6 separate regions of the Homo sapiens genome follow, and regions 1, 2, 4, 5 and 6 are each linked to region 3. Evidence: fine-mapped expression QTL. A gene starts in region 3. Each other region holds a variant in brackets. All regions are shown on one strand. Distances are between the middles of the regions.

Region 1 (4,940 bases), 23 kb before region 3:
AATCTGTACCAGAACGTGAGTGTACCTGTATATTTCAGACTTTACATCATATTGATAAAATACATCTTCCAGTTCCTGAGGTGAGAGATATGCTGTAGATTTGACTCTGTCTGTCTTTTCTCTCGTAGTTCCCAAACTCATGGAAGTCTGTGTTTTCCTCAACTCAAATCCTGCAAGCTAGATAGAGAGGCAACTTAGAAAGAAACAAGCAAGATCTTGGGTAGAGGAGTAAAGGGCAGGGATTGTTGCTACACACAATTGCCAGGGAATTGTCTTTTACCTTAGGGATTTATTTCCTGTCGTGACTTCTGTCTGTGTGGCTACTTTATTGGTTAACATTATGGGTTCAACTTATCACAGTGCAGTGACCAAGAGAAACACAAAGAGATTTCTTCTGTATAAAATGGGGCGATGACAGGGGGGATTACTTGAGATAATGGTTATAAAGCACCAGTAAGACCTGCTAAGTTGTAGTTGTTGCCAGTATGACTATGTTAAAATGTAGGGGTTTCTCAGTTGAGGACTGAACTCCACTCAGTGAGAGTGGAGAGGGGTCATAGAGCCACTGCCTGGCTCGCCTTTTCCCAAAGAAGCAGATGGAAAAATGGCATGGGGGCATCCCCTCTGTGCTATCTGACTTTATGGGGGGTCAGCCTGATCCTTTGGCTTTGGCGTGACGAGTGTGAGTCATCCCCCCAGGCCTGCGCGGTCACCTGGTGTTCTTAAAGAAACTGTAGCACAATCATGACAGCATATGTTCTTGTCCCATGCACACCTGCCATTGACACCATTGGTGTGCTGAAGGCTGCCAGCCCCAAACTCAGCCAGGTACCCAAATCTAGGGGCAATGTGAGAAAAGGGATAAGGCACTTAGATGGCTCATCCCCCTTTCATTCATTCATTCATTCATTTGCTCACACGTTTCCTGAGCACTGACATTCTCTTACATCTAGCGCCGTATGGGATACCAGGGATGAAAGGTGGAATAGCGCATCTTATAGTCAGGCTGCATGAAGAGCGTGAGAGTAGTAGAAACAGTGTTTTGGGAGTACTTATATCACCATCGCAGAGGGGGAAAGGCATCTGAAAGGCAAAAAAGGCCTGTCTGCTATTATTTGAGGGCTGTCTCTGACACTCGTAGGACTGGAAGAAAGAAAACCGTCTATGGATGACAAAGAAAACTGCTAAAATTCTTTTAGCATTTGGGAATTGTGGACACTGAGTTCACAAAATCTTTTCCTCTTCTGTATGAAAATCTGACTTCCAGTGAACTTCTTAGCTCTGTTCCCCTGGAAATCTGATACAGGTAGACTGTCACCTATGGCTCTTAGTAACATTGCTGATGATGAAAATAAAAATGACTGCTGATTGTTAGATTGCTTCTGGGCAGGATCAAGGGGGTAACAGGACTACACAGTAAACAGCTGATGGGAATGCTTTGTAGCAAATTTTTCTTATTTATTTATTTATTTATTTATTTTTTGAGACGGAGTCTCACTCTGTCGCCCAGGTTGGAGAGCAGTGGTGCAATCTCAGCTCACTGCAAGTTCTGCCTCCTGGGTTCATGCCATTCTCCTGCCTCAGCCTCCGGAGTAGCTGGGACTACAGGCACCTGCCACCACGCCTGGCCAATTTTTTGTATTGTTTAGTAGAGACAGGGTTTCACTGTGTTAGCCAGGATGGTCTCGATCTCCTAACCTCATGATCCACCTGCCTTGGCCTCCCAAAGTGCTGGGATTACAGGTGTGAGCCACCGCGCCCAGCCTCTTTTTTATTTTTTGAGACAGGGTCTCATTCTGTTGCCCAGGCTAGGGTATACAGTGGCGTAAACATAGCTCCCTGCAGCCTTGACCTCCTGGGCTCTAGGCATCCTCCTCCTGCCTCACTCTCCTGAGTAGCTGGAATTACAGGTGTGCACCACCATGACTGGCTGATTTTTAAATTTTTTGAAGAGGGGGAGGTCTCACTGTGTTGCCAAGGCTGGTCTTGAACTCTTGGGCTCAAAGTGATCCTCCTGCCTTCCCTTCCAAAGTGCGGGGATTACAGGCATAAGCCACCATGCCTGGCCATGTAGCAGCTCTTTTCTTTTCTTTTTTCTTTTTTTTTGGAGATGGAGTTTTGCTGTTGTTGCCCGGGCTGGAGTTCAACCACGCGATCTCGGCTCACTGCAAACCTCTGCCTCCCGGGTTCAAGTGATTCTCCTGCCTCAGCCTCCTTAGGAGCTGGGACTAGAGGCGTGCGCCACCACACCCGGCTAATTTTTTGTATTTTTAGTAGAGACAGTGTTTCACTATGTTGGCCAGGCTAGTCTTGAACTCCTGACCTCAGGTGATCCACCCGCCTTAGCCTCCCTAAGTGTTGGGATTACAGGCGTGAGCCACCATACCCAGATGTGGCAGCTCTTAAAACAGCAACTCACATGTCACTTGCAGAAACACTGGAAGGCATGCCTGCAGAGTTGTTACCAGAGATGCTGAC[T/C]CCTGCAGGTCATGGGCTTCTAAGCCTGGATGACCCACACCCACCTAATGGGAGCCTCTTTCTCCAGCACCTGTGGCTCTGACAAAGAGAGTATCTCCTGGATGACTGCGAGGACTCACCCTGGAGGGAAAGGTTTGGCGCTGCTGACATCCTTCTAAGTAACTGAATGACAAGTGTGGCCTAGACCTGTCCTGTGAGTCTGAGTCCTTAAACCTAACAAGATCCCCCATTGTATGTTGTAGGGACATAGAAGTGGTGTCCAGGCATCTAAGGGGAAATGACTTGTAGCCCATCCCTGCTAAATGGGCAGTGAGGGAAGGCAGTCATCAGAACAGGCGGCATAGATGGAGACTGTTGTGTGGTGGGCACACAGAAAGTTGAAGTTAGTTCTGAAACTAAAAAACTAAAATTGAACTCAGTTCTAAAACCAAGGCAAGGCCGGGCATGGTGGCTCATGCCTGTAATCCCAGCACTTTGGGAGGCCCAGGTGGGCGGATCACTTGAGGCCAGGAGTTCAAAACCAGCTGGCCAACATGGTGAAACCCTGTCTCTACTAAAAATGCAAAAATTAGTCAGGAGTGGTGGTGCATGGCTGTAATCCCAGCTACTTGGGAGGCTGAGGCAGGAGAATCGCTTGAACCTGGGAAGCAGAGGTTGCAGCGGGGCGATCTCGCTCACTGCCCTCCAGCTTGGGTGACAGAAAGAGACTCTGTCTCTAAATAAATAAATAAATAAACTAAGACAAGAATCAAGCCTTTCTGAGACACTCGTGCCCCTCTCATAGCACCAGTCATGCAGGTTTGACCCAAAGCGCCCCCGCAAGGCACACTCACCTTCACTTGGTAGCCTTGAGTTACCAGGAAGTTTGAGCTTCTGATTTTTCCGTGGAGTTCAGGTGCTTCTGAATGGTGTAGCCTGACACAGCCAAAGGCGGGGAGCATAAGTACCTTTGCCCAAACTTTCTTTGGGGGACTGACAATCATAACTGGGCTGATGAGGCTGGACAGTACCATGGGTGCCTGTCCACAGTTACACAGGAAAAACTGGGATGTAGAGGCAAGGTTTGAGAATCACAAGCCGTGAGTATAGAACAGAGATGAGATTCATAGCACAAGGGGGCATGACAGCCCTTATGAAGTGCATGCAATCGGGCATCAGGGGTGCCTTTAGGTAGAGAAGGACAACGTTGCCTCTGTGTTGCTTTGCCTGGGAAGTGCTGGGCAGATCCGAGAGCTCAGAGGCATGGCTGGGTGGCTGGACCTTGCTGGGACCCTTCAGGTCAAAGCAGAATGTGAAGCTGGGGTCCCGCTGACTTCCAGACAAGGGCTTTGGTTTCACAAAGCCCCTGCGTCCCAGGTTGGGTTGCACTCATGGTGTCTGCCTGAGCTCAGATTCTCCCAGAAGCAGATCATGAGCCATGATTTGGGCACGAGGGATTTGTATCAAGAAGGTGCTCCCTTGACCAGGCATGGTGGCTTGCGCTTATAATCCCCACACTTTGGGAGACCAAGGTGGATGGATCACTTGAGGTCAGGAGTTTGAGACCAGCTTCGCCAACATGGTGAAACATCATCTCTACTATTAATAAAAATACAAAAAAATAGCTGGGCGTGGTGGCATGTGCCTGTAATTCCAGCTATTCAGGATGCTAAAGCATGAGAATCACTTGCACCCAGGAGGTGGAGTTTGCAGTGAGCCGAGATCACGCCACTATACTCCAGCCTGGGCAGCAAAATGAGGCTCTGTCTCAAAAAAAAAATAACTCCAAAAGTCCCCCAAACAAACAAAAAGAAGGTGCTCCCAGGAGAAATGGTTGAGGGAGTACAGGAAGTAGGATGGCGAAGGAGAAGAAATCAAGCAAGAGGTTGATTTCAGGTGAAATCCCAGGCTCAGGTGGTCTCGCGGAGACCTGTGGGCACAATTACACCTCAGAGTGTGTCCCACAGGAAGCAAAGGAACTGGACTTTTATACTTACACCAGTCAGTGGTTATGGACTGTGTTGGGGAGGGCAGGGACAGATGGATATAAAACTCGTGGGCACTTTCAGCTGTCTATAAGGGTGAAAGGGCTCCAGTGCCCACAGGCAATCCTCTGAAGATTGCAGCTGTGAACTTTCAGCAGCAAAGCATGCCGAGAGGGGGATGGGTAAATAGAGCTGGTAAAAAGGATCAGAGGTCATTTGGAGGGGATATTAACAGTGTCCCCTACAACATCCAAAAATACTTCTCCTTAAACTCACTAGTTTAGGGAGTTGAGAAGAAACAAACTTAATTTCAAATTAATAGCTAAGACAGTGTTTCCAAAAGTGTGGGATAAGGTGGTATGCAAGATTATATAAAGGGAAAATTACTCTCCTTTCAGTTTGCTCCAGTCTTTCTGATTACATCAAGAAGAAAGTCTGCGTTTGGTATTTTTTTTTTGTTTTTTTGTTTTTGTTTTTTGTTTTTTGTTTTTTTATGAG
Region 2 (4,940 bases), 300 kb before region 3:
AGGCTGGTCTCGAACTCCCGACCTCAGGTGATCCACCCACCTCGGACTCCCAAAGTGCTGGAATTACAGGCGTGAGCCACCATACCCGGCCTCAGTTTCTTTATTCTTGTCCTTCCATCGACTTGGCCCCTATTTTTTTTTTTTTGAGACTAGTCTTGCTCTGTCACCCAGCGGGGAGTGCAATGGTGAGATCTCAGCTCACTACAACCTCCACCTCCCGGGTTCAAGCGATTCTCCTACCTCAGTCTCCTGAGTAGCTGGGATTACAGGCGTGTGCCACCACACCTGACTAATTTTTTGTATTTTTAGTAGAGACAGTGTTTCACCGTGTTGGCCAGGCTAATCTCAAACTTCTGACCTCAGGTGATCCACCCACCTCGGCCTCCTGAAGTGCTGGGATTACAGGCATGAGCCATTTTCTTTCTGCCCAGCTATTTTTTTTTGCATTTTTTGGCTAGACGGGGTCTCACCCTGTTGCCCAGGCTGATCTCAAACTCCCGTCCTCAAGCGATCCTCTTGCCTTGGCCTCCCAAAGTGCTGGCATTACAGGCATGAGCCACTGCACCTGGCCTTCGCTTTGAATTAAAGTGGCAGGCAGGAAGAAGCATCATCTCAAAAATTGATGGTGACAGCGGCAGCGACTACATCTAGCTTGCACAGGTGGCAGCTTCTGTCCCACTTCGGTGGTGCCAATTGTAGCTTCTGTGCCAGCAGAGGCTGTGGGGTCTTCACCTGGCCAGCTTTGCCCAATGTCCTCTTCCTGATTTGATTTTCTGACCCTTTTGAGCTCCTGGGAACTAGCCAGGACCTCTGACCAAGTCCCTTTCTGCTTAGAGTTGCCAGAATTAGTTTCTGTTGGTTAAAACTAAGAACCTTGATTCTCACAAAAATAGGACCAGGACTGGACAGAGCAAGAAGCCCCAAAGGAAACAGGAGCAATTGAAGGCTGGAAAGTGGCCAGAGGACAGTGAAAATCCAGCTGGTATTAAGGGACAGGACACCAGCAGCCCCATGGCACGCCCTGGCAAGACAGCTAATCCCATTGTCCCCGGGAACAAAGTATCCATCAAAGGCAAGGCTTTGGGGGACCTAATGGCTCCTGCCATAGAAGAGAATAAAGATTACACTGAAGTCAAGATCTGCTGGGCAGGGCGGTCATGTTAACAGCGCCACATAGCTTAAATGAAAAGACAAGCTCAGAATCCAAATTCTTGGCTCAAGGTATGGTTAGAAAACCCGAGTGTGCCTGGCCAAAATGGCAAAACCCCGTCTCTACTAAAAATACAGAAATTAGCCAGGTGTGGTGGCAGGTGCCTGTAATCCCAGGTACTTGGGAGGCTGAGGCAGGAGAATCGCTTATATCCAGGAGGCGGAGGTTACAGTGAGCTGAGATCACACCACTGCACTCCAGCCTGGGCGACAGAGTGAGACTTTGTCTCCAAAAAAAAAAAAAAAAACCAAAACTCGAATGTGTTATTTTGCAGCTGAGAGAGCAGAAAAAACTGAAAACTTGATCCAATGGTTACAGAATGACCAAGGGGACCCACACCTTAAAAGGTCTTTATTTGGGAAAGAGTGAAATGTGGAGACCAGAGGCTATGAAAATTAGGCTGTGTGGAAAGATAGGGAAGCCTTAGGTACCTAGCCCCTCCCCTCCCCACCACCCTTGCCAGCCAAAGCTTCCTCTTTGTCACTGAAGATCCTAGTAGCAGGAACTCCCTTGCGGGCAGTTAGGTGTTCTATGTAGCTGAGGTATGGCCTGCAGCGACGGCTGAGTCTGTTTCTACACTGCTATAAAGAAACATCCAAGGTTGGGTGCGGTGGCTCATGCCTGTAATCCCAGCACTTTGGGAGGCCGAGGTGGGCGGATCACCTGAGGCTTGGAGCACGAGACCAGCCTGACCAACATAATGAAACACCCTCTCTACTAAAAATACAAAACTAGCTGGGTGTGGTGGTTCACGCCTGTAATCCCAGCTACTTGGGAGGCTGAGGCAGGAGAATAGCTTCAACCCGAGAGGCAGAGGTTGCAAAGAGCCGAGATCACGCCATTGCACTCCAACCTGGGCAACAAGAGCAAATCTCCATCTCAAAAAAGCAAACACCGAGACTGGGTAACTTATAAAGAAGTTTAATTGACTCACAGTTCCACACGGCTGGGGAGGCTTCAGGAAACTTACAACCATGGAGGTAGGGGAAAGCAGACACCTTCTCCACAGGATAGTTACGAGGATGTAAGCACGAGAAAGAGGAACTGCCACGCTTTAAAACCATCAGATCTCGTGAGAACTCACTCACTGTCACGAGCACAGCATGGGGGAAACTGCCCCCATGATGCAAGTACCTCCACCTGGTCCATCCCTCAACCCGTGGGGATTGTAATTCGAGATGAGATCTGGGTGGGGACACAAAGCCTAACCATA[T/C]GGGTGGGACGGATGGCAGTTATTTCCAGGGTGGGCTGTAGCCTCTTCCTCCAACCTACATCTCCTGTTTCCCAAGCTGGTAACCTGGATGCCCTGGGTGACCTAAGAAGCCATGTGCTAAAGATGTCAGGACCTCAGTCGGCCGGGGTTCCCCCTTCCCCATTTCAGTTGAGGGAGGAAGAGCCTTTCAAGAGCGAGAGCTAGCCAGCAGCTAGCATTTCCCTATGTAACACACCCTGTAATGACCCTGCCCCGAAGGAGTCTCCTTATAAGCCCTACCCCTCATTTTCTCCAGAATTAAATGACAAGTCACATCCCCGCAGGCCCCAGGGGCCAAATCTAGGAGGGTACTGAATCATCAAAAAACTCCAGGGGGAAGATACTGAATCACCAAAAGAAACTAAAGATTTTGCTAATTGATATTGGCTTACTCACAGTACATGGTTGGCTAAAAAATTTTTTTAATTGATATTGGCAAAAATCTGGGAAGGTGATCTGAGAATGAATTCTGAGGGTGCAGGATGGGTGAGGGAGGAAGGGGATGCTAGATAGGGATGAATGTACCGATATTGAGGATTCCACAGGGACAGCTTGAGAAGCTGGGATTATAGGCGTGAGCCACAGCGATAATGTAGTACTTTCAGTGCTGAAATCAGGATAGTGCCAGGCAAACTCGGACAATTGGTCAACCTAGCTGTTAAGTAACTAACTTGCTCTAAATCACAGTTATTAAGTGGCAGGGCCTGTATTCAAATGCAGGTGGGCTGACTTCAGATTCAAATTGTTTGCTTTTGCCAGTGGTTCTCAATCTTGAGCATGCAAACCTGGAGGCCTTGTTAAAATTCAGATAGCCCCATCTTCAGGGTCTCCAATTCAGTAGGTTGGGGCCGCCGAGAATTTGCCTAACCAGCTCCCTGGTGATGCTGAGGCTGCTGGACTGGGAAGACTGGGAACCAACTGAGAAGACCTTTGTATTTGGCTTTCTCACCTCCAGATAAGGGCTTTTTAACTTTTATTTTGTGAGACAAGGTCTCAATCTCTCACTCACGCTGAAATACAGCTTATGATCATGGTTCACTGCAACCTCAAACTCTTGGGCTCAAGCAATCCCCTGCCTCAGCAATATGAATAAACATATTGGAGGCCAGGTGTGAGACTCCACCTCAAAAAAAAAAAGTAAAGGAATAGGGCTGGGCGCGGTGGCTCACGCATATAATCCCAGCACTTTGGGAGGCCAAGGCAGGCAGATCATCTGAGGACAGGAGTTCGAGACCACCCTGGCCATCGTGGTGAAACCCCGTCTCTATTAAAAGTACAAAAAAAAAAAAAGCCGGCATGGTGGGGGCACCTGTAGTCCCAGCCACTCGAAAGCTGAGGCAGGAGAATCGCTTGAACCCAGGAGACGGAGATTGCAGTGAGCCGAGATCACGCCACTGCACTCCAGCCTGAGCAAGAGCAAGACTCCCTCTCAAAAAAAAAAAAAAAGTAAAGAAATAAAACAATGGCTACTCCATAGAGCAGCCCCGAGGGCTGCTGGTTGCTCATTTTTATGGTTATTTATTGATTATATGCTAAAGAAGGGGTGGATTATTCATGCCTCCCCTTTTTAGACCATATAGGGTAACATTCTGGCGTTGCCATGGCATTTGTAAGCTGTCTTGGCGCTGGTGGGAGTGTAGCAGTGAGGACGACCAGAGGTCATTCGCATCACCATCTTGGTTTTGGTGGGTTTTGGCCGCGGCTTCTTTACTGCTTGTGCCGGCCTCTCATCTCATCCTGTGACTTAGAATGCCTCCACCACCTGGGAACACAGCCCAGTAGGTCTCAGCCTGATTTTACCCAGCGCCTACTCAAGATGGAGTTGCTCTGGTTCAAAGGCCTCTAACAGAAGCTAAACACAGGTGGGGGCTTTCAAAGAAGCAGATCCAATGCCCACTGCCCTTCCTCACTCCCCTAATAGATGTAGGGCACCATGGACTTTTACAGACTGAGGGACATACTCTGGATGAGAATAGTTTACCCTATCAAGGAAAAGTAAGTTCCCCAGATGAAACGCCACAGATAACAGGCATATTGTAAGTCAGGCTTTGTACGTTTTCCAAAACTCACTACAGGGATCCCCTTTGAGGTGCAGAATCTTGTATCACAATAATCACGATTCCTTGGCCAAGGCCTTTTGATGTCATGGTCCGTGTTTTTCTCCGGATCGTTGGGCATGCGGAGGCAGAAGGAGAGCCTGGCAGAGTGAATGACAAACGCAAGGGAGGCTGCAGAGGGGAGGGAGTGAGGGCGGCCCAGGGCCCAGCCCGGCGGGAGCCGAGGAAGAGAAGGACCAGCCAGCCAAGGGCGGGCGGCTCCAGAGGAGGCCCGGGACTCCCCAGTTTCCCAGCCTCTTCCACCCCACGCGGATCCCTGCCCCGACGCTGATTCAGGGGGTCAAAGCCTCGGGCGGGGCGGACCGCGGCGGTGACTGGAGGCGCCCCAGTTTCTCTGGGTGTGGCCTGCGGACCCCCTCGG
Region 3 (4,940 bases):
ACGACAACAAAAAACAAAGTTAGTTTTTTTTTTTTTAACAGCTCAGTGAAATAGGTAGGTTAAGTATTATCGCCAGTTTATGGATTAATTAGCAGCTTGGAGAAAATAATTGGCCTGGAGCCCAAGTATGGCTTTAAAACATGAGTAAGGCACTGGCAGAAGTGAAACTAAATAAATGAGCAATCGATATAGTTGTGTTTTTGTTGCCTGAGAGTTACAGTGATTGGGCAAGGGAGGTAACAGTTATTAGGGCACTCCTAAAAAGACTAGTGGATCTCAGACTACCCAGCTATTCCCACGTGCTAAGCAGATATCTTCAAGGCCATTTCTTGGGAATTGTGAGGGCAAAAGGTTTTACACTTTCTCTGTTGCACCAGAAACAGAAGCAAATGTGGCAATGTTGTTCAAGGAATCTTGCAAATTGTAGCTTCCTAGCTCTAAGCTCCAGTTATCTTACCAGCAGCCTCATCAGAAAGCCATATCTCAGCACTGAACTAATCAGAAAGGAAAATGGGGAAAATATCCCACCCATAGAACTGACAAACAATTTCAAATAATAAATTATACAGTGGTGGCATGGTATGAAGAAAATTGCAGCGGTCACATTGGCTCATGCCTGTAATCTCAGCGCTTTGGAAGGCCGAGGCAGGTGGATCACCTGAGGTCGGGAGTTTGAGATCGCCCGGCCAACATGGTGAAACCCCATCTCTACTAAAAATACTAAAATTAGCCAAGCATGGTAGCAGGCGCCTGTAATCCCAGCTACTCGGGAGGCTGAGGCAGGAGAATTGCTTGAACCCGGGAGGTGGAGGTTGCACTGAGCCGAGATCACACCACTGTGCTCCAACCTGGGCAACAGAGCAAAACTCCGTCTCAAAAACAAAAACAAAAACAAAAAAAAAGAAAGAAAGAAAATTGCACAAAACAAAGCTTGAAGAAAGGAGGAAAGAGAAGTGTTATATTTCTGGCTGGGAAGACTAAAACAGACCAACCCAGCAATCCTTCCCAAATTTAAATCCAATTTAATGCAGTTCCAATAAAACATCTACTGACATATTTTGGCATTAAATCAAAATGATCCTAAAGTTCATTTGAAATGGGAAATTAGTAGGGATAACCAGGATTTTAAAAAATAAAGAAAAGGGGACTTGCCTGTATGAAATTAAAATATATTAAAAACTGCAAAATATTGGGAAAAAGCACCCTACAATAACTTAAATTGTTTAAGGTCTTATTAAGTATATGATCTACAAGGGAAGAAAGGGAATATACATATATACACACTTAGACTGGGCAATTTGAATTTCTAGGAACTTATGATGTAGAAAAGCTTGTGTTTGTAGATAGATGGCTACCGAGATGTTCACTGCAGTGCTATTTATAATATGTAAAACAAACAGCTAAGAATATGTTCAGGCCAGCTGCAGTGGCTCACACCTGTAATCCCAGCACTTTGGGAGGGTGAGGTAGGAGGATCACCTGAGCCCAGGAGTTTGAGACCAGCCTGGGTGACAAAGCGAGACCCTGGCTCTACCAAAAAATACAAAAAAAATTTAATTGGGTGTGGTGATGTGCACCTTGTAGTCCTAGCTACTTGGGAGGATCTGGTTGGAGGATCACTTGAGCCCATGAGTTCGGAGGCTGCAGTGAGCTATGATTGTGCCACTGCGCTCCAGCCTGGGCAACAGAGGAAGACTCCATCTCTCAAAATAAATAAATAAAAAGAAAAAGGGGATTATGTTCATATGTTACGATGAGAAAACAGGTTACTAATTTTAAAAGTGAAAAATCTTTAAATGGTAATAACAATGCAAATTCACCTCTTCCCTCCAAAAAATAAAAAATAAAAATAAAATAAAATAAGTAAAGGTTATCAGGCATTTCCCTCTTCTCTCTCTCTCACTCTGTCTCTCTCTCACGCCTTCAGCCTGCAAACCTGAAGACTTCCTTTTTCTGAGAAGACATCAGGTAACTTGTTCCCGTGCCCCTGCCCTCCACGACCCCCACTGCTACTGGGCGTCTCGCTTTGGCGGAAGGTAGTGCGAGATCCGAGCAGGCAGCTCCACCATCAGAGCTGAGGAAATGAAACCAACTCGGTCCTGAGTTCCAGGAACTCGGACCGGGCCACCCTCACCCCTGGTTCTTCCCATCACCGTCCAGGAATTCGGCTGCAGCCCCTCGGCCCCGCCGCCTCCTGGGAAGACCCCATGCTCACCTTCGCGCCTCCCGAGGGGTGTGCGTCCAATCTGTCCCGTGCACAGTTCCAAAAAGCTCGCTCTTCCACCTTCTTTCCCACGACCGCCTCCTGCCCAGGCGAGAAGTTTGCAAACGCGAGGCCCGCGGGAGTTCCCCTGCGCCCCCTTTCCTGGTGCCCGCACCCTGCACTCTGCTGACTGTACCGGACGCCACACGTGGCTGGCGGCGACAAGGCGCCCCGATCCCTACCTGAGGGAAACCCCGGCCACTGCAGCTGCACTTGAGCAGGGTCCCTCCACTCAGCCACTTGGATGGCTGTTTCTGTCCAGTGCCCTCCGGAGGCCACTGCCTCAGGTCTGTGATGCCTGCAGAGAATGCTGCGACACTTCCCCCTCCGACGTGGCTCCAGCTGCCAACCACCAGGCTCACGGTGCCCTGGCTCCCTGGAGCCGCTTTCTAGGCAGCTCGGAGCCACGGCCCCTCCCTTCCTTCCTCCTGTCCTTTCCACACTCTTCCTGCCTTCCCCAAAGTCACTGGGTAACTACGCTGTACACGTCAGTACCAAGCCTTCTTTAGGGGCTGGGGATTCAGAATAGAATAAGGTCCCAGCAACTATTATAACCAGGACACAGTATGAGAAGGACTGGAAGTTTAGAGAAAAACTGAAAGTTGGAGAGAAGCTTCTGGTGTTTGCTTCTCTGTGCTGGATAATATTGGCGGGGTGGGGAGGGTACGAGGGAAGAGACACCAAAGTGGGAAAAAAGTCACTTCCTCTTCTAAGGTCATTGCAGAACATCCTGTTACAGTGTGAGTCAGGTTTTCTTAAGATTAACTACATCTTCAGCTAGAAAGTCTAAGTAGTGTTATGCATTTACTCAACAGACTATTTGCCTCTAAAAGAACAGAACTGGGAGCTGGGTGTGGTGGCTCATGCCTGTAATTCCAGCACTTTGGGAGGCGGAGGTGGCCAGATCACCTGAGGTCAGGAGTTCAAGACCATCCTGGCCAACATGGGGAAACCCTGTCTCTACTAAAAATACAAAAATTAGCCAGGCGTGGTGGTGCATGCCTGTAATCCCAGCTACTCGGGAGCCTGAGAGGGGAGAATCGCTTGAAGCCGGCCTTGGAGATTCATTTCTTCGCCTTGCTATTGTTCTTCGTCTCCTGCATCATCAGTTTTCTTCCTGTCTTAGGTGAAGAGATTGAGGTGAGGCAGGAGAATAGGGTCTGCAGGCAGGGAACATAAAGCTGATTCACGCTGACTTCTTAGAACTAAATAAAATGGACACATTTCAGCTATGACAGGAAATATTTTCTTCATTTACATATGGCGTTCACTGAGTAAGTGACTGAGCAACTTCACTTCATCTTCTTCATTTACATAGGGTGTACACCAATTAACCAATGGGAGCCTCTAGAGGGTATTTAAATCCCAGAAAATTCTGTAACGGAGTTCTTGAGCCCCTATGCTCACGCTGGCTCCCACCCTGTGGAGTGTACCTTTGTTTTCAATACATCTCTGCTTTTGTTGCCTCATTCTTTCCTTGCTTTGTGCATTTTGCCCATTTCTTTGTTCAAGATGCCAAGAACCTGGACACCTTCAACAAGTAACACAGGTGCCTGTGATTTATTGAAGGAAGACTCTTAGGAGAGTGGTGGGTATGATAGGGCAGAGGAAGAAAAAGTGAAACAAGTATGTAGTCAGTGGAGGCTCCATGGGGAGGTCTGGAATGTGAAGGTCTGGAACAAGAGGCAGCCTCCTTTCTGCCCAGGGCAATTCTTCTGGACGAGGGGGAAGCTGTGTGAGTGTTTAGCTGTCAACACTCATAGCAGCTGCAGGATGGGTATACTGATCTGCTATAAACAAAATCATACAATGTATAACCTTTTGGAAGTTTTTTTCTTTTCTTTTCTTTTTTTTTTTTTTTACTGTCCCACCATCAATGTACAAGACATTCAGTTTCTCTGCATCCTCAGCAGCATTTTATTTTGTCCCTGCCTGAATTTTTAGCTATTCTAACAGGTGAATAGTGATATATCATCATGGTTTTTTGTTTTGTTTTGTTTTGAGATAGAGTCTTACTCTGTTGCCCAGGCTGGAGTGCAGTGGCGCCATCTCAGCTCACTGCAACCTCCACCTCCTGGGTTCAAGCGATTCTCCAGCCTCAGCCTCCCAAGTAGCTGGGACTACAGGCGTGCACCACCACACCTGTCTATTTTTTGTATTTTTAGTAGAGACAGCGTTTCGCCATATTGGCCAGACTGGTCTCGAACTCCTGACCTCAGGTGATCCACCCACCTTGGCCTCCCAAAGTGCTGGGATTATAGGCATGAGCCACTGCGCCTGGTCTCATCATGGTTTTAATTGGCATTTCTTTAGTGCCTGGTGATGATGGACATGTTTTCATGTGCTTGTTTGCCATCTGTATAGCCTCATTGGTGAAATGTCTGTCCATGTCTTTTGCCCATTTTTAGTTGAATTCTTTTTAAAAAACTTGAGTTTTGAGAGTTTAAATATTCTAGATATTAATCCTTTGCCAGATAGGTGGTGTTCAAATGGTGGTGGAGTAACTGAACAAAAAAATGAACTTCACCTAAACCTCATATTCTATGCAAAAATTGCCTGAATGGATCAGAGATTTAAATGTAAAATGTAAAACAAGGAACCTTTTAGAAGAAAGCAGAGAGAACTGTGCAGAATGAAAGGACATTTCCTGTTGAGAAAATGTAAATGTTTGAAAAAA
Region 4 (4,940 bases), 270 kb before region 3:
GGTCAGTTGCTTGTGATGAACGCTGGGCTGGAGTCCACAAGTGCCATTGGCACTGATGTCTTCTAACCGAGCTCCTTGTGTCTGTTTACTAATTATGTGGGCTTAGTGTAGACTTCCTCTAGGATGCAGCCTGGGAGTTGGTGCAATGGTCTGATTGCAGGGAGGTATCTTTGCATGCCCAGGACATGCCCCTGGGTGCATATCCTATGTGAGCAGCTCTCCTCCTGGCCCCTGGGGATATTGGCTAGCATGGGCCCTATGCTTTCCAGCATCTTCCGGGCCCTGCATGTAGCTCGAAGTTTGTGCTTCATTTCCTCCTCAGACTGGCTGGCCCACTCTGCTGCTGTGCTCCAGAACCTCTCCACTGTGTGACCAGTTTGAACACCCAACCTCTGCACCTATCGTCTGGGTTAGAACCTTTCAGCAGCCTCACAGGAAAGCTTTGTGCCCAGTCTTCCACAGCCCATCTGCACGGGGACCAACTGCTGCCAGCCTTGCAGAGCAAAGGTGGCCAGGACGGCTGGCCACAGAAAAGGGTGCAGACATGGGGAAGGCTGGCTAGAGTCTCATCCAGAGAGGAGAGCCCATACTTGTGACCCATTCCACATTCTCCTTTACCGGGCAGTTTTTTGTTTTTTTGTTTTTTTTAAAACAGCATCTCACTCTATCTCCCAGGCTGGAGTGCAGTGACACAATCACAGCTCACTGCAGCCTCGACCCCTGGGCTGGAGTGACCCTCCTGTTGACAGCTATTGTGAGGCCTTGGTTCTTGTCTTCTTGGTTTAAAAGAATTTAAACAAGAGACACACAGCAAAAGAAGTGCAGCATAGAGTCATTTACTGTAAAGAAAAGAGTATTTTGAAAGTTAACTATATATAGGCTGGGCATGGTGGCTCACGCCTGTAATCCCAGCACTTTGGGAGGCCGAGGCGGGTGGATCACAAGGTCAGGAGTTCGAGACCAGCCTGGCCAATATGGTGAAATGCCGTCTCTACTAAAAATACAAAAATTAGCCGGGCATGGTGGCAAGCGCCTGTAGTCCCAGCTACTTGGGAGGCTGAGGCAGAAGTATTGCTTGAACACAGGAGGCGGAGGTTGCAGTCAGCCGAGATCGTGCCACTGCACTCCAGCCTGGCCAACAGAGCAAGACTGCATCTCAAAAAAAAAAAAAAAAAAAAAGTTAAGTATGGAATAGACAGTGCACTGAGAAACAGCATTCGTAAGGATGAGACAGCAAAGACTGGCGCTAGGGAGGCTCCCTTTCTGGAAGCCTTTCATGATTATTCGTAAGTGGGTGGGAAGAGGCGTTACTAGTAGGCATGGTCTGGGTGGTCTTCTTGGTGCACATGTGCAGTAGTTGTACATGCTTGTTTATACATCGCATGTCTCTTTAGCATCTTTTTTTTTTTTTGAGACAGAATCTCACTCTGTCGCCGAGGCTGGAGTGCAGTAGTGCGATCTCAGCTCACTGCAACCTCCACTTCCCAAGTTCAAGCAATTCTCCTGACTCGGCTTCCTGAGTAGCTGGGATTACAAGCACGTGCCACTACCCCTGGCTAATTTTTGTACTTTTAGCAGAGCCAGGCTGGTCTCGAACTCCAACCTCAAGTGGCCTGCCCTCCTTGGCCTCCCAAAGTGCTGGGATTACAGGTGTGAGCCACCGCACCTGGCATCTTTAGCATCTTAAATCTCCACCCAGGGGTGTATTTTTTACTATTAAAATGAGCAGTGTGTCGGTTTGAGGACAGGTGAAATCAAAATGTGCATGCTCTCTACAGGGGCAATCGCCTACTGAAGACAGCTTTGCTTGAATGAGCTCGATTACAATGTGAATGCTGAGGCTTATTGTGTTGATTGTACAGTCACCACGCTTGCTGCGTTCCCAGAACATGGTCATTTCCTTAACTACCTATCCTGCCTCACTCCCACCCCAGCCTCTTGAGTAGCTGACACTACAGGTGTGCAACACCACACCTGGCTAATTTCTTTTCTTTT[CT/C]TTTTTTTAGACAGTCTTGCTCTTTTGCCCAGGCTGGAGTGCAGTGGTGCAATCTTGCTTCACTGCAACCTCTGCCTCCCGGGTTCATGTGATTCTCTTGCCTCAGCCCCCCGAGTAGCTGGGATTACAGGCATGCACCACCACGCCCAGCTAATTTTTGTATTTTTAGTAGAGACAGGGTTTCACCATGTTGGCCAGGCTGGTCTCGAACACTTGACCTCAGGTGATCCACTGGCCTTGGCCTCCCAAAGTGCTGGGATTACAGGCGTGAGCCACTGTGCCTGGCTCCTTTTCAATTTTTGTAGAGACAAGGTCTCACTATGTTGCTCAGGCTGGTCTTGAACTCCTGGCTTCAAGCCATCCTCCCAAAGTGCTAGGATTATAGGCATGAGCCACTGCACCCAGCCACTACCTGACAGCTTTTAAGCCAAAGCTTAGTGGAATCATGGGAGGGAGAAATCCTAGCGTCAGCAAGTGAGGACTCGGGCAAGGAAAAGGACCTCTCCTCTCCAGGTCCACTTAGTGCCAGAGCTCTGCGCCTCACAACACACTGCTTGTTCCAGGCTCCACTTTTTCTTCTCAAAATGCTTTATAAATGCCTGGTCCCCATCCTCTTTGGAGTAAGGGTTAACGCTATTCTTCAGGTAATAAAATAAGGCACAGACTCTCTTCATATGATCTGGTACAACACCTCATCCCAGATGTGAAATCCTCTTTGCCTAGCCAGGCCATGCTTTCCTCCTCCAGGCAGGCTTCCAGATCTCCAGCTGCAGCTACTCATCCAGTCAGGAGCCAAGAGAACGAGAGAGGTAGACAGGGTGCAGCCTGCAGCCTTCTGCAACCTCCAGCCCCAGAACCCCTCAGCACCAGTTTATAAATGAAAGAGGTTTAATTGACTCACAGTTCCGTATGGCTGGGGAGGCCTCAGGAAACTTACAATCATGGTGGAAGGGGAAGCAGGCACATCTTACATGGTGGCAGGCAAAAGGCGGCCAGAGCAGGGAAAACTGCTTTATAAAACCATCAGATCTTGTGAGAACTCACTCATATCACAAGAACAGCATGGGGGAAACCGCCCCCATGATCCAATGATTTCCCTTCCCTTCCTTACAGGTCCCTCCCTCGACACCTGGGGATTACAATTAGAGATGCGATTTGGATGGGGACACCGAGAGAAACCATGACAGGGGCTCTCCAGAGAAGCAGCCCAGCCTTGGGCAACTTAGTTCTCCCATCTGACCATCCAACCCAATAAGGCTGCTGACTCACATAGGACCAGGTTAGTGTTTTTCTTAAAGGCACTACCTTTTTGTGGCTAATTTTTAGAATTTATTTTTATTATTATTTTTTTGAGACGGAGTCTCACTCTGTTGCCCAGGCTGGAGTGCAGTGGCGTAATCTTGGCTCACCACAACCTCTGCCTCCCGGGTTCAAGCAATTCTCCTGCCTCAGCTTCATGAGTAGCTGGGACTACAGGTGCATGCCACCACACCCTGCTAATTTTTTGCAGTTTTAATAGAGATGGGGTTTCACCGTGTTAGCCAGGATGGTCTCTATCTCCTGACCTCGTGATCCCCCTGCCTCAGCCTCCCAAAGTGCTGGGATTACAGGCGTGAGCCACTGTGCCCGGCCGCTAGAATTTAATTTTTATCAGATATATAAATACTAGTTTGAAGTCAAGTAATACTACAAAGCTTATAATGATGAACAGCAGCTCCCTGACTCACCAAACCCTTGCAATTCTCAATCCTCAGGAGTAATAACTCTCAACTCTTAGAGCTCTTTCTTATGGTAATTAACTATTAATTCATGCTCATACTGTTATTTTATTGGTTTTCAGGTTTCAGATATTCTCCACTAACTAGGAAGATGATTTTGCTTTCAGACCACACAGACACTCATCGCCCCTCTTGCCACCCATCCTTTAAATTTGATTGTTTTTTCCTTCTGGGGTTCAATCAATATTCATTGTTTACATTGTTTTAATTATGCAAATATCACTACTTGAGGCATACCACATACTCTAATTACATTTCTGTTAGTTTTCCTTTAACTGAAAACGTCTTAATTTCACCTTCATTCTTGAATGATATATTTGGTGGATATAGAATTTTGAGCTGACAGTTCTTTTCTTTCAACCCCTAATGATGTTCTACTGGCCTCTATGATTTCTGATGAGAAGTCCAAGTCATTCAAATCCTTGTCTGCCTTAAATTTGTTGTTTTCTCTGTTTTCAAGATTTTCTCAGTTTGCTTTTTTTTTTTTTTTTTTTGAGACAGAGTCTCGCTCTGTCACCCAGGCTGGAATGCAGTGCTGAGATCTTGGCTCACTGCAACCTCTGCCTCTTGGGCTCAAGCAATTCTCTGGCCTCAGCCTCCCTAGTAGCTAGGATTACAGGCACCTGCCACCATGCCTGGCTAAGTTTTGTATTTTTAGTAGAGACAGGGTTTCACCATCTTGGCCAGGATGGTCTTGAACTCCTGACCTCAGGTGATCCACCAGCCTCGGTCTCCCAAAGTGCTGGGATTACAGGTGTGAGCCACTGCGCCCAGACTATTTTGCATTTTTAATAGTTTGATCATGAGGTGCTTAGGCATAGTTCTCTTCAAATTTATTTTGTTTGGGGCTTATTGAGTATATTTATTTATTTATGAGATGGAGTCTCACTCTGTCACCCAGGCTGGAGTACAGTGGCATGATCTCGGCTCACTTGCAACCTCCACCTCCTGGGTTCAAGCAATTCTCGTGCCTTGGCCTCCCAAGTAGCTGGGACTACAGGCATGCACCACCATTTTTTTGTGGCTAATTTTTGTATTCTTAGTAGAGATGGGGTTTCACCATGTTGACCAGGCTGGTCTTGAACTCCTGATCTCAAGTGACCTGCCTGCCTCGGCCTCTCAAAGTGCTGGGATTACAGGCGTGAGCCACTGCGTCTGACCTTATT
Region 5 (4,490 bases), 30 kb before region 3:
ATAATGTGATTTTGCCTCAATAAACGTAGTATTCCATTGGAAAGCAAACAAAAGATATATGAATGGACTTTATTAAAATGTTTTTGAACTTTGGACTAGTAGGAGATCACTTTGTGCCATATGAATAATCTTTTTTAGCTCTAGAACTTTTTTTTTTTTAGACAGGGTCTCGCTCTGTTGCCCAGGCTGGAGTGCAATGGCATGATTTCGGCTCACTGCAACCTCCACCTCCTGGGTTCAAGTGATTCTCCTGCCTCAGCCTCCTGAGTAGCTGGGATCACAGGCACGTGCCACTACGCCCACCTAATTTTTGTATTTTTAGTAGCGGTGGGGTTTCACTATGTTGGCCAGGCTGGTCCTGAACTCCTGACCTCAGGTGATCCACCCGCCTTGGCCTCCCAAAGTGCTGGGATTATAGGCGTGAGCCACCGCGCCCGGCCATAATGTTCATGATCTTGATAGAGTTTGGATTACTCATATGTATGCATTTGTCAAAACTCATCAAATGCTATCTTTAAGATTTGTGCATTTCACACAAATTTTTCACAGCAAAAACTTACCTTCCCACCCCCCCGCCAAAAAAAAGCTCATAGAGAGATAAACTCCAGTTAATGGCATAAATGCTGAAGTGTTTAGGAATGAAGTGCATAAAAAATCAGGATGAATTAATGGCTAGAAAGAGGCACAAGCAGATAAATAGGTATGTGATAAAACAAATATAATAAATTGTTAGTTGTAGAATTTAGGTGGTAGGTATATGGTTGTTCAGAGTACAATTGTACTGACTTTTCTGTGTATCTGGAAATTTTCATACATAAGTGTTGGGAAAAATCAGGTACAGGGCCTTGGAAGGCATCCTGTGCAAGTAAAAGGCCCTGAAGATTAAGCTTTATCAGGCTTATAGTAAATTCACCTATAATAATTGTGGGTCTGCCAGAGTATGAATAATTCATCTACCAGGGAGAATTTTCACTGTAACTCCTACAGTAAATAGAACAAATGATTTTAAAGATGAAAACAGTGGCTGGGCATGGTGGCTCATGCCTGTAATCCCAGCACTTTGGGAGGACAAGGTGGGCGGATCCCTTGAGGTCAGGAGTTCCAGACCAGCAGACCCTGCCTCTGAAAAAAAAGAAAAAAGAAAAAAGGAAGGAAGGAAAATAGTAAAATAGTAATACCTGCCAGTAAGTTCTACAAAATAATCATATTAAGTTTATATTCTTCTGCATTTTTTATTTATAGAAAAAAACCATGTTCTAGGTTTTAAAAAAATCAAGGATAAGTAAAAGATAAAAACATAAGGCCGAGTGTGGTGGCTTATGCCTGTAATCCCAGCACTTTGGGAGGCCAAGGTGGGAGTATCACTTGCGCCCAGAAGTTCAAGACTAGCCTAGGCAACACAGTGAAACCCTGTCTCATAATAATAATAATAATAGTAATAGAAATCAGCCATAATTTTCTTCACCAGAGATGATTACTAGAATACAAGACCCAAATGTATTTTTATTGCTGTCTTCTCAGTGATTGAAACAATGGACAGCACATTTGCTGTTGAATGATTTAGAATGAGTTCTGAAAAAAATGTAACTTTAAAGACAGGGATTAGTGTATCCTAGGCAAAGCACACACCATGAACAAAGGTATAAGATCTAAAATGAGACCAGGTGTGGTGGCTCATGTCTGTAACCCCAGCACTTTGGGAGGCCGAGGTGGGCAGATCACTTGAGGTCAGGAGTTCGAGACCAGCCTGACCAACATGGTGAAATGCTGTCTCTACTAAAAATACAAAAATTAGCCAGGTGTGGTGGCACACACCTGTAATCCCAGACACTTGGGAGGCTGAGACAGGAGAATCGCTTGAACCTGCAAGGCGGAGGTTGCAGTGAGCCGAGATTGCGCCACTGCACTCCAGCCTGGCCAACAAGAGTGAAACTCTAGGCCGGGCGCGGTGGCTCACACCTGTAATCCCAGCACTTCAGGAGGCCGAGGCGGGTGGATCACCTGAGGTCAGGAGTTCGAGACCAGCCTGACCAACATGGTGAAACCCCCATCTCTACTAAAAAATACAAAAAGTTAGCCGGGTGTGATGGTGAGCACCTGTAATCCCAACTACTTAGGAGGCTGAGGCAGGAGAATCGCTTGAACCCAGGAGGCAGAGGTTCCAGTGAGCCAAGATTGCACCACTGCACTCCAGCCTGGGCGTGACAGAGCAAGACTCCGTCTTAAAAAAAGAAATCTAGAATGAAAGCACCACAAACATGGGTTTGAGTCTGGCAGGGATTAAAATCTGGCAGCTCCTATGTGGACATATTTTGTTTGTCTTATCAGCATTAAAATAATTTTTTTTTTGAGACAGGGTCTCACTCTGTCACTCAGGCTGGAGTGCAGTGGTGCAATCATGCCTCACTGCAACCTCCGCCTCCCAGGTTCAAACGATTCTCATGCCTCAGCCTCCCGAGTAGCTGGGATTACAGGCATGTGGCAGCCACACCCAGCTAATTTTTGTATTTTTAGTAGAAACAGGGCTTCACCATGTTGGCAAGGCTGGTCTCGAACTCCTGACCTCAGATGATCCTCCCGCCTGGGCCTCCCAAAGC[G/A]CTGGGATTTCAGGCATGAGTCACCGTGCCCAGCCTAAAATAATTTTTAATGAGATACTGACCTTTAAAAATAAGGACATCACAGAAAAATCCAACTTTCTAGCTCTTTTGACAAAATGGAAAGCTCTAGAAATGTTGGGATCCCATTCTATGTGACAAAGTATAGACTGGAGTTGAGGAGACGCTGTTCTTGCTCATCTGCCCACTGAAGCCCCCTCCAGGTTCAAATCATTCATTTAGTTTCCTTCCTAGGCCCTATGGGTATTAGAGTTTGCAATCTCTGGTAGGAGAACTCTGGCATCTGATTGGAAAGTCAGGTTGGAAAGTATGGTATGGGGGATATCCATAAGGCTATGGATATCCAAATAGGAAGTTTGTACTTGATTCCTTGGGCAAGAGGAAGAATTGAACAGTTTCTGCCTAGTTACTTCTGTTGTGTAAAAAACCACCACAAAACTTAGTGTTAAGACAACAGTAATTTATTTAGCTCCTGATTGTGTGAATGGGCAATTTGGGCTGGGATCTGCTTGAGTGGTTCTTCTGGTCTTGATTGGCCTCATTCATGTGTTAGCTGCCATGTTGGTTGGGCTAGTATGACTTCAGCTAGGAAAGCATGTTTCTGCTTCATGTGGTCTCTCATTCTCCAGCATGCTCACTCAACATGTTCATGGCTGGGTAAGGTTCCAACAGACATTTATAAGGCCTCTTGAAACCTAGGCTTGGAACTGGCATACAGTCACTTCTTCCACATTCTATTGATCAAATCAAGTCACAGTGCCAGCCCAGATTCAAATGGTGGGGAAAGAGACTTCATTTATGGAAGGGAGGAGCTGCAAATTTCATTGCCAAGAGGTGTGGATACCCAGAAAGATACATTTGACAAACCATCTATCAAAGTTACTGTCAGAGGTATGTTTTTGGAAATATCATTTGGAGTGGGATGTGTCCTGTATGACTGGAATCGTTTTCTATTTGTAACAGAGAAGCGTGCCCACTCCTTGCACCCATAGATAACCCAATGCCGAAGGATATGAGAGAGAGAGATGTCCAGTTTGTGCCTCTCCCAGCTTCTTGTCCAGAGACTCCTTGGTTTAGATTTTGATACACTACTTAGAAAAGGTGGAGAGTTTCTTTAAGATTTCTGTGGATGAATGAACAGAAAATTAGACCAGGGTAGGCAGCTGAGAGCCAAGTTAGAAACACAAAGACATTTCTACATTGCACAGTCATTTAGAAACTGCATTCCCCCTGGTCTGGCTGGTGCCTGAACCACCATCAGCACTCACACATTTGGGATATAAAGTTCTCTTACTTGATCAACTTTTAAAACACAAACACCTCACAGGAGGGGGTAAACTCACATCTTAGTATGAATTACTCTCTGGTGTTAGATTCCTTAATACTAGGAGGACCCTAGGTTGTAAGGGAGCTTGGTAGAAGAAGAAAGAAGACAGAGGAGAGAGTGTAGTGGAGGACAGCATTGTATAAATCACTGTTGGCTTCTCATCCACCCCAAAGACCAATTTTTCAGAACACATCATTAAGTCTGCGCTTCTGCTCTGTGGTGGTGAAGAGAAAGTTTCAGACAGAAACTATGCCGTGACTTTGATTCTTCATTCTGAAAGGTAGGGATGTGGATGAAGGGAGAGGAGAGATGACAGATGAGACCCTCTCAGGTAGTGTGAGAGGTTTTCCCAACAGACCATCTGTGAGAAGGCCTTGAAGAACAGTCCTCATGCTCAAGACTTCTGTAAGCAGACAGAACATCCTTGGAAGCTGCCTCAAAAGTCTGGACTCATGGCTCTTTAGTTCCTTCTTCTTTTCTTTCTTTCTCTTTTGAGACAGAGTCTTGCTCTGTCACCCAGGCTGGAGTACAGTGGCGCGATCTTGGCT
Region 6 (4,940 bases), 160 kb before region 3:
ATTAGCAACATACAAACTCATTTTTATACTTACAACATATATTAAAATTGACTTTAATTAGGTTGCTAGGTAATCATAAGATTCTATTATATAACACAGTACTTTTGAACTTTCTCCCTACTTGTCTAATAGCAGATACTTTAATGCCTTTTTAAGGTGCCTTTCTCAGTCTCAGAAATCAGCCTCCATGCTGAGTCGACCTAGCTTAACTCTGTTCCCACCACCTCAATCTGAAGTTTAACTTATATCTCTTAATAGTTTATTTACAAGAATGCTTTTTCTTAGACAGTTTTCTACACTATCCTTTTAAAATCTATCCTTTAAGTTTTCCCAATCAATTAGCAATTCTAGCTCTTTCTCAAACAAGGGATGGAAGGCAATTAATATCACAATCTTCTCTACTTATACTCATTTCTACTAAACAACAAATTTGGATTAAAGGTGCATTCTTGAAAGAAATTTAGAGCATTGGAGAATTTTCAAAATAATGTCAAATAAGATGTAAGCTCCCCATAGAAAGAAATGTATTGTCATGTTTAGAGTCCACAGGACTATATTAGCAAATTAATTACTGTTTTAATGACTTGCTTCCCTACAGCGGGAGACTGGATTATTTCTCCCAATTTTTCACTTGCATAGGATTTTACATCCAGATCCTCTGTTTTGTAAGTCTGTACCGCCTCCTGCTATAAACTGAGTATACACCCGGCTCCGCTGACGTTGAGCAAATCAAGATAGCAAAAGAGATGAAAAGCAAGCACTGCAGTCCACATTTGCAGTTAATTGAGTCTCCATGGATGATGTCATTCCTTCCTAAGAGGTGCAGTACTGTGTGCTTAGTAATACTGTTAATGTAACATAATATAATATAGGCCACTGACATGCTCAGGCCAATGGAGTTTTAGGAGATACAATATGAGCAGAGGATTTAAATGTGCCTGGGTAGTTTGGCCTGTATTCCTGCACCCCTGCCATTCCCCATGAGAACATGGTAGTACAAAGAAAAGAGACATGTGGAGCAGACCTGAACTTAACCCTCAACCTGTAGCCTGAAGCAAAGCCATCTCGAATAACCCATGGGAAAGAAAAACAAGCCTCGAGTTAAGCCCATGAAAGTTTGAGGGTGTCTGTTATGAAGAAAAAATGACTAATATATCTATCAAACAAATAAAATAAAAATATCAAAGCCTTTAAATTAGAACCTGTAACAGCTATGATCTAAAATTAGTGAATTATATTGGAAAGCACAGAGCACTACTGTACCTTTCATGAAGAAATGACATAATCCATGGAGACACAAAAGTGCAAATCTGGACACCAGTGCTTGCTTTTCATCTCTTTTGCTATCTTGATTTGCAACTGACTATAAATGCGTCTTATTTTTGCATTCATTCATTCATTTAGTTTTGAGATAGAGTCTTGTTCTGTTGCCAGGCTGAAGGGCAGTGGCACCATTATGGCTCAATACAGCGTCCACCTCTTGGGCTTAACTGATCCTCCTGCCTCAGCCTCCCTAGTAGCTGAGACTAAAGGTATGTGCCATGATAGCTGGTTAATTTTTTAAAATTTTATTGTACAGACCGGGTCTCGCTATGTTGCCTAGGCTGATCTCAACTTCTGGTCTCAAGTGATCTTCCTGCCTCACCTGCCCAAAGTGCTGGGACTGCAGGCATGAGCCAGTATGCCCAGCTTTTTCCTAGGTTTAGTTTCTCTATGCAGAAAGAAAAGATGACAGAATAGGAATGCCGTAAAAACAAGGTTATGATGTTAGGTCTTTGAGATTCATGGAACCAAATCGCTATGAAGAATTGTTAAGCATAATTGTGACAATTAATTTCAGAAATTTAGAGGGGTTTTTAGAATCCAAGAACACAGTGGTGATTTAGAGGAAGAGAAGAGAGAGAACGAAATATAAAATACAAAGGAGTATTTTATACTACCCGGGGAATGGTGGGTGCATCAATAATGTCAGAATAAATGAACTCGAGAAAGTAAATAAAAATAATAAATAAATAAAAAGAAAACACTATGCTTCAGCACTCAGTCATGTGATAAAGAACCAATGAACAGAAATCTCAAGGAACGAAAACAGATGCAGGTGCTGATTC[G/A]GGTTTGGTTCTCATACTGCACCATTCTCATTATGTCCCAATTAAACCACTTCATCAGATATAGTACATCTATTTCCACAAAACTTTAAGTGCAGACAGGCTCACTTGTCTCTAATCCTAGAAGATGAATAGCATGAGGAATAACACCCATAATTACTAAAATAAGATAAAACTGAGGATTTTTTTTCTTCCTCTTTGGTAATAATTAGTGAAATAATGCTCTGAGATGATCCCAAGAAATTAGCCAACAAGTATATATTGAATAATGATGATGAACTCAAAATTGTGCTAGGCATTGTTGCAGGATACAAAGACAACATTCTATCTGGTCTCTAATCTCAAGTTGTTTACAATCCAGTTATACAGTTAAAATAGCGAAATCAAACAAGCAAGAGGAGGGACTTGAGATAGGCCTAAAGAATTAGAAGAGTGATCTCCAAAAAGGAGTGGAGTGATTCCTCAAGGAAGAAGTTACATGATCCCTTGGGGGTCAGGAAGAAAATAACAGAGCTTCTGTTTTTAAAAAAGCTTATCCTTTAATTTATGTTTTAACGTATTTTTATAATGCATATAACATGGGTGTAACTAATATTTTATGAGTATGTATCTACTGGGGGAATGGTTACTGATTTTTCAAATGATAGGAAGAACATGACCAAGATAGAGGAAAAAAACTTCTTCTCATCATTAAGATTCCTACCTCTACCTGCATTCTTCAAACCAGGGGCAAAGTGCTGGCTCCTAGCCTGTGGAGGCATCAAATTAGAAGCTGAGCTATGTCACATTATCAGCTACTCCTTATCTGGAGATAGAAGTCTGGGCTTCAAAAAGAAGGATCTCTTACATCAAGTATTTACTCATTGGAAATAAAACTGTCCTCTTACTATGGAAAACTGTAAGAAAAAAAGTTATGAAAAGTATAATAAATAGCTGCTAATTTAATGACCAAATATGAGAGAAATGATTCCTGACATTGCATATATTAGTATCAATAAGTAAACTATTATAAACAGAAGAATGAGAAAATGAAGAGAATTTAGCACATCCCCATCCCAATGCATCAGTGACTAAAACAGAGAAGGAACTTGGGTAATGCTGTATAAATGATACAGCAAACAAAGGCAGTAAAGGGAAAAGCACCAAGTACTTGGAGACACCTGCTTGACTTCAATAAAGAACATGATGAGTGTATCAGGAAATGGTTAAAAAACAAAACAAAAAACCTCACAAAAAACAGAAAACAAAAAAGAACCCTGCCACTTTTCTATAGTAGTTAGCAATAGAAGTGTGTGACTTTAGGTACATCACTTAACTTCTCTAAACCCCTAACAACAGGCTTTGAACTAGAGTGGGAATCCATGAACAGGCTTTGGGAGTCTGAGATATCCTGAAATTGAACGCAAGCATTTGTGTGTATGTATATTTTTCTGAGAAGAATATCCACAACAGCTATCACCATCTCAAAAAGATCCACGAGACAAGAAAAAATTAAGAAATACTGGTCAAACATTGGTTGCGGTTCTTTCCAGCTTTATGAGTCCATAAAATCTGAGATGTGGAATTTAAAAATGTACTTACTGAATTTCAAGTTTTTTTAATGCAGATAATTTGTATATTATGATGGTTACTACTGTTTCACCTTAATCTCTCCTAGTCAAAGTCACAACAAACAGGTTTCAGAATAAACTACTGAAAAGCTTGAGTCTGAATGTTCTCAAATCAACTACCGCATTCACTTAGGAGGAAGGTTTTTACAGAAAGTCTGGAACTATGATTTCCCCAAGGTGAACAGGCTGAGTTAATGAGTCTGGAAGGAGAAATTAAAGGATTCATAAAGCTATCTTGGAAGGTGTCCCAGTTTCTGAAACAGAAATGCTTGGGAGTTGGATGTTGTCTAAAATATGGAACATTCTACAGTTTCCACTGAAGCTGAACTACATCAGATCACATAAAGGAATAGGGTCCTTTTTCTAAGATAACTGGTACTAAATTAAGTGACAACCAACTTTGTTTTTGAATCCCTCAGGAGAAAACAAACAAAAGATGCCAACAGTATCAGTGCTTTTACAGCCTTAGAAAAATTTGAAGTCACGCGATAACCTAATGCCTCCTTTCAATTGGAGACACTCTGCTGCAGTATTAAGTCAAGTCTTCTGGGAGTTTATTCATTAAGAACCCAGTAACTTCCCATCACACGAACACTTCATTTATTAACCTTGTCCAAAGCCCCAATGACAATGAAGATAATGTAGCTGGTCTCTAACAAAATAAACCCAATCTTTTACCCCCGGGAAACTCTCCTGAGCAAGTCTAAATGCAATCTCGATCCTCAGGTTTAGAACTGCTTTCCTCTTAGTGCCTTATTCTGGCTCTATCAGAATTTATTTTTCTTATTTGTACCCAGGGATAGTGGCTGAGTATTGTTTTTCCAAAAGGACAGTGATCAGCACAGGCTTTATGCCTTCCAACAATGTTCTGATTCACTAAAGAGTTGTAGCTGCTTTTATTTAAGTCTTTAGCATTCAACTACCTTTTCAAAAAGGAGTTACTGTACAGGTCCAACGGGAGATTTTGAGATTTTTTTTTTTTTTTTTTTCTTAAAAAGACATGAGATACAGAAGCTGGCTCTCAAGTGCATATCTAATCATCATACAAGGCTGAATGTGGAGTTTTTAGGGGGAAAGGAGGACTTGATATTTTAAAGAAGGAAAAAAGCACCAATAACCCTATGAGATGAGTATGGCAATAAAGTCAGTCAGAGAAAGTTTCATGGAGGGTACATTTGAATTAAGTCTTATAGGCGGTTGTGGTTTGGTTAAGGATGCTGTGTGC

Which allele goes with the higher level. Positions count from the first base shown, and alleles are read on the strand shown. Sizes are in standard deviations (SD) of each study's normalised expression. Not every link is listed here.
For the expression in macrophages after interferon gamma of the gene that starts at base 2,625 in region 3, allele T in region 2 goes with a higher level than allele C (large effect, 0.88 SD a copy in Alasoo 2018).

What was found. PIP is the estimated chance that this variant, and not a neighbour inherited with it, causes the effect. A credible set is the group of variants that fine-mapping cannot tell apart.
Region 1: its variant is the best candidate, but not a certain one, in a credible set for the expression of MLKL in monocytes after interferon gamma (Fairfax 2014, PIP 0.90).
Region 2: its variant is the best candidate, but not a certain one, in a credible set for the expression of MLKL in macrophages after interferon gamma (Alasoo 2018, PIP 0.67).
Region 4: its variant is the best candidate, but not a certain one, in a credible set for the expression of MLKL in whole blood (INTERVAL, PIP 0.68).
Region 5: its variant is the best candidate, but not a certain one, in a credible set for the expression of MLKL in whole blood (TOPMed, PIP 0.85).
Region 6: its variant is the best candidate, but not a certain one, in a credible set for the expression of MLKL in whole blood (TOPMed, PIP 0.61).

What each region holds. Positions count from the first base shown.
Region 1 is chr16:74,675,588-74,680,527 of GRCh38, forward strand. It overlaps MLKL (mixed lineage kinase domain like pseudokinase), which reads right to left. Exons shown (of 11, transcript NM_152649.4): 7 at 3,312-3,393; 8 at 26-177. Among named protein-coding and RNA genes, the nearest start is that of RFWD3, 11 kb to the left of the region's middle. The variant T/C (reference allele first, on the strand shown) is at 2,479.
Region 2 is chr16:74,402,041-74,406,980 of GRCh38, forward strand. It overlaps LOC105376772 (a long non-coding RNA gene), which reads right to left. Exons shown (of 2, transcript NR_135170.1): 2 at 4,249-4,659. Among named protein-coding and RNA genes, the nearest start is that of CLEC18B, 17 kb to the right of the region's middle. The variant T/C (reference allele first, on the strand shown) is at 2,424.
Region 3 is chr16:74,698,238-74,703,177 of GRCh38, forward strand. It overlaps MLKL (mixed lineage kinase domain like pseudokinase), which reads right to left and starts at 2,625. Exons shown (of 11, transcript NM_152649.4): 1 at 2,216-2,625. RefSeq lists an enhancer at 2,079-2,528.
Region 4 is chr16:74,431,334-74,436,273 of GRCh38, forward strand. LOC107984827 (a long non-coding RNA gene) reads left to right here. Exons shown (of 3, transcript XR_001752253.3): 2 at 3,110-3,275; 3 at 3,837-4,239. Among named protein-coding and RNA genes, the nearest start is that of CLEC18B, 12 kb to the left of the region's middle. RefSeq lists an enhancer at 1-429. The variant CT/C (reference allele first, on the strand shown) is at 1,996.
Region 5 is chr16:74,668,801-74,673,290 of GRCh38, forward strand. MLKL (mixed lineage kinase domain like pseudokinase) reads right to left here. Exons shown (of 11, transcript NM_152649.4): 11 at 3,055-3,738. The coding sequence ends at 3,704. It also overlaps the pseudogene TMPOP2. Among named protein-coding and RNA genes, the nearest start is that of RFWD3, 4.2 kb to the left of the region's middle. The variant G/A (reference allele first, on the strand shown) is at 2,598.
Region 6 is chr16:74,534,044-74,538,983 of GRCh38, forward strand. All of the region lies in intron 1 of GLG1 (golgi glycoprotein 1), which reads right to left. Among named protein-coding and RNA genes, the nearest start is that of GLG1, 71 kb to the right of the region's middle. The variant G/A (reference allele first, on the strand shown) is at 2,109.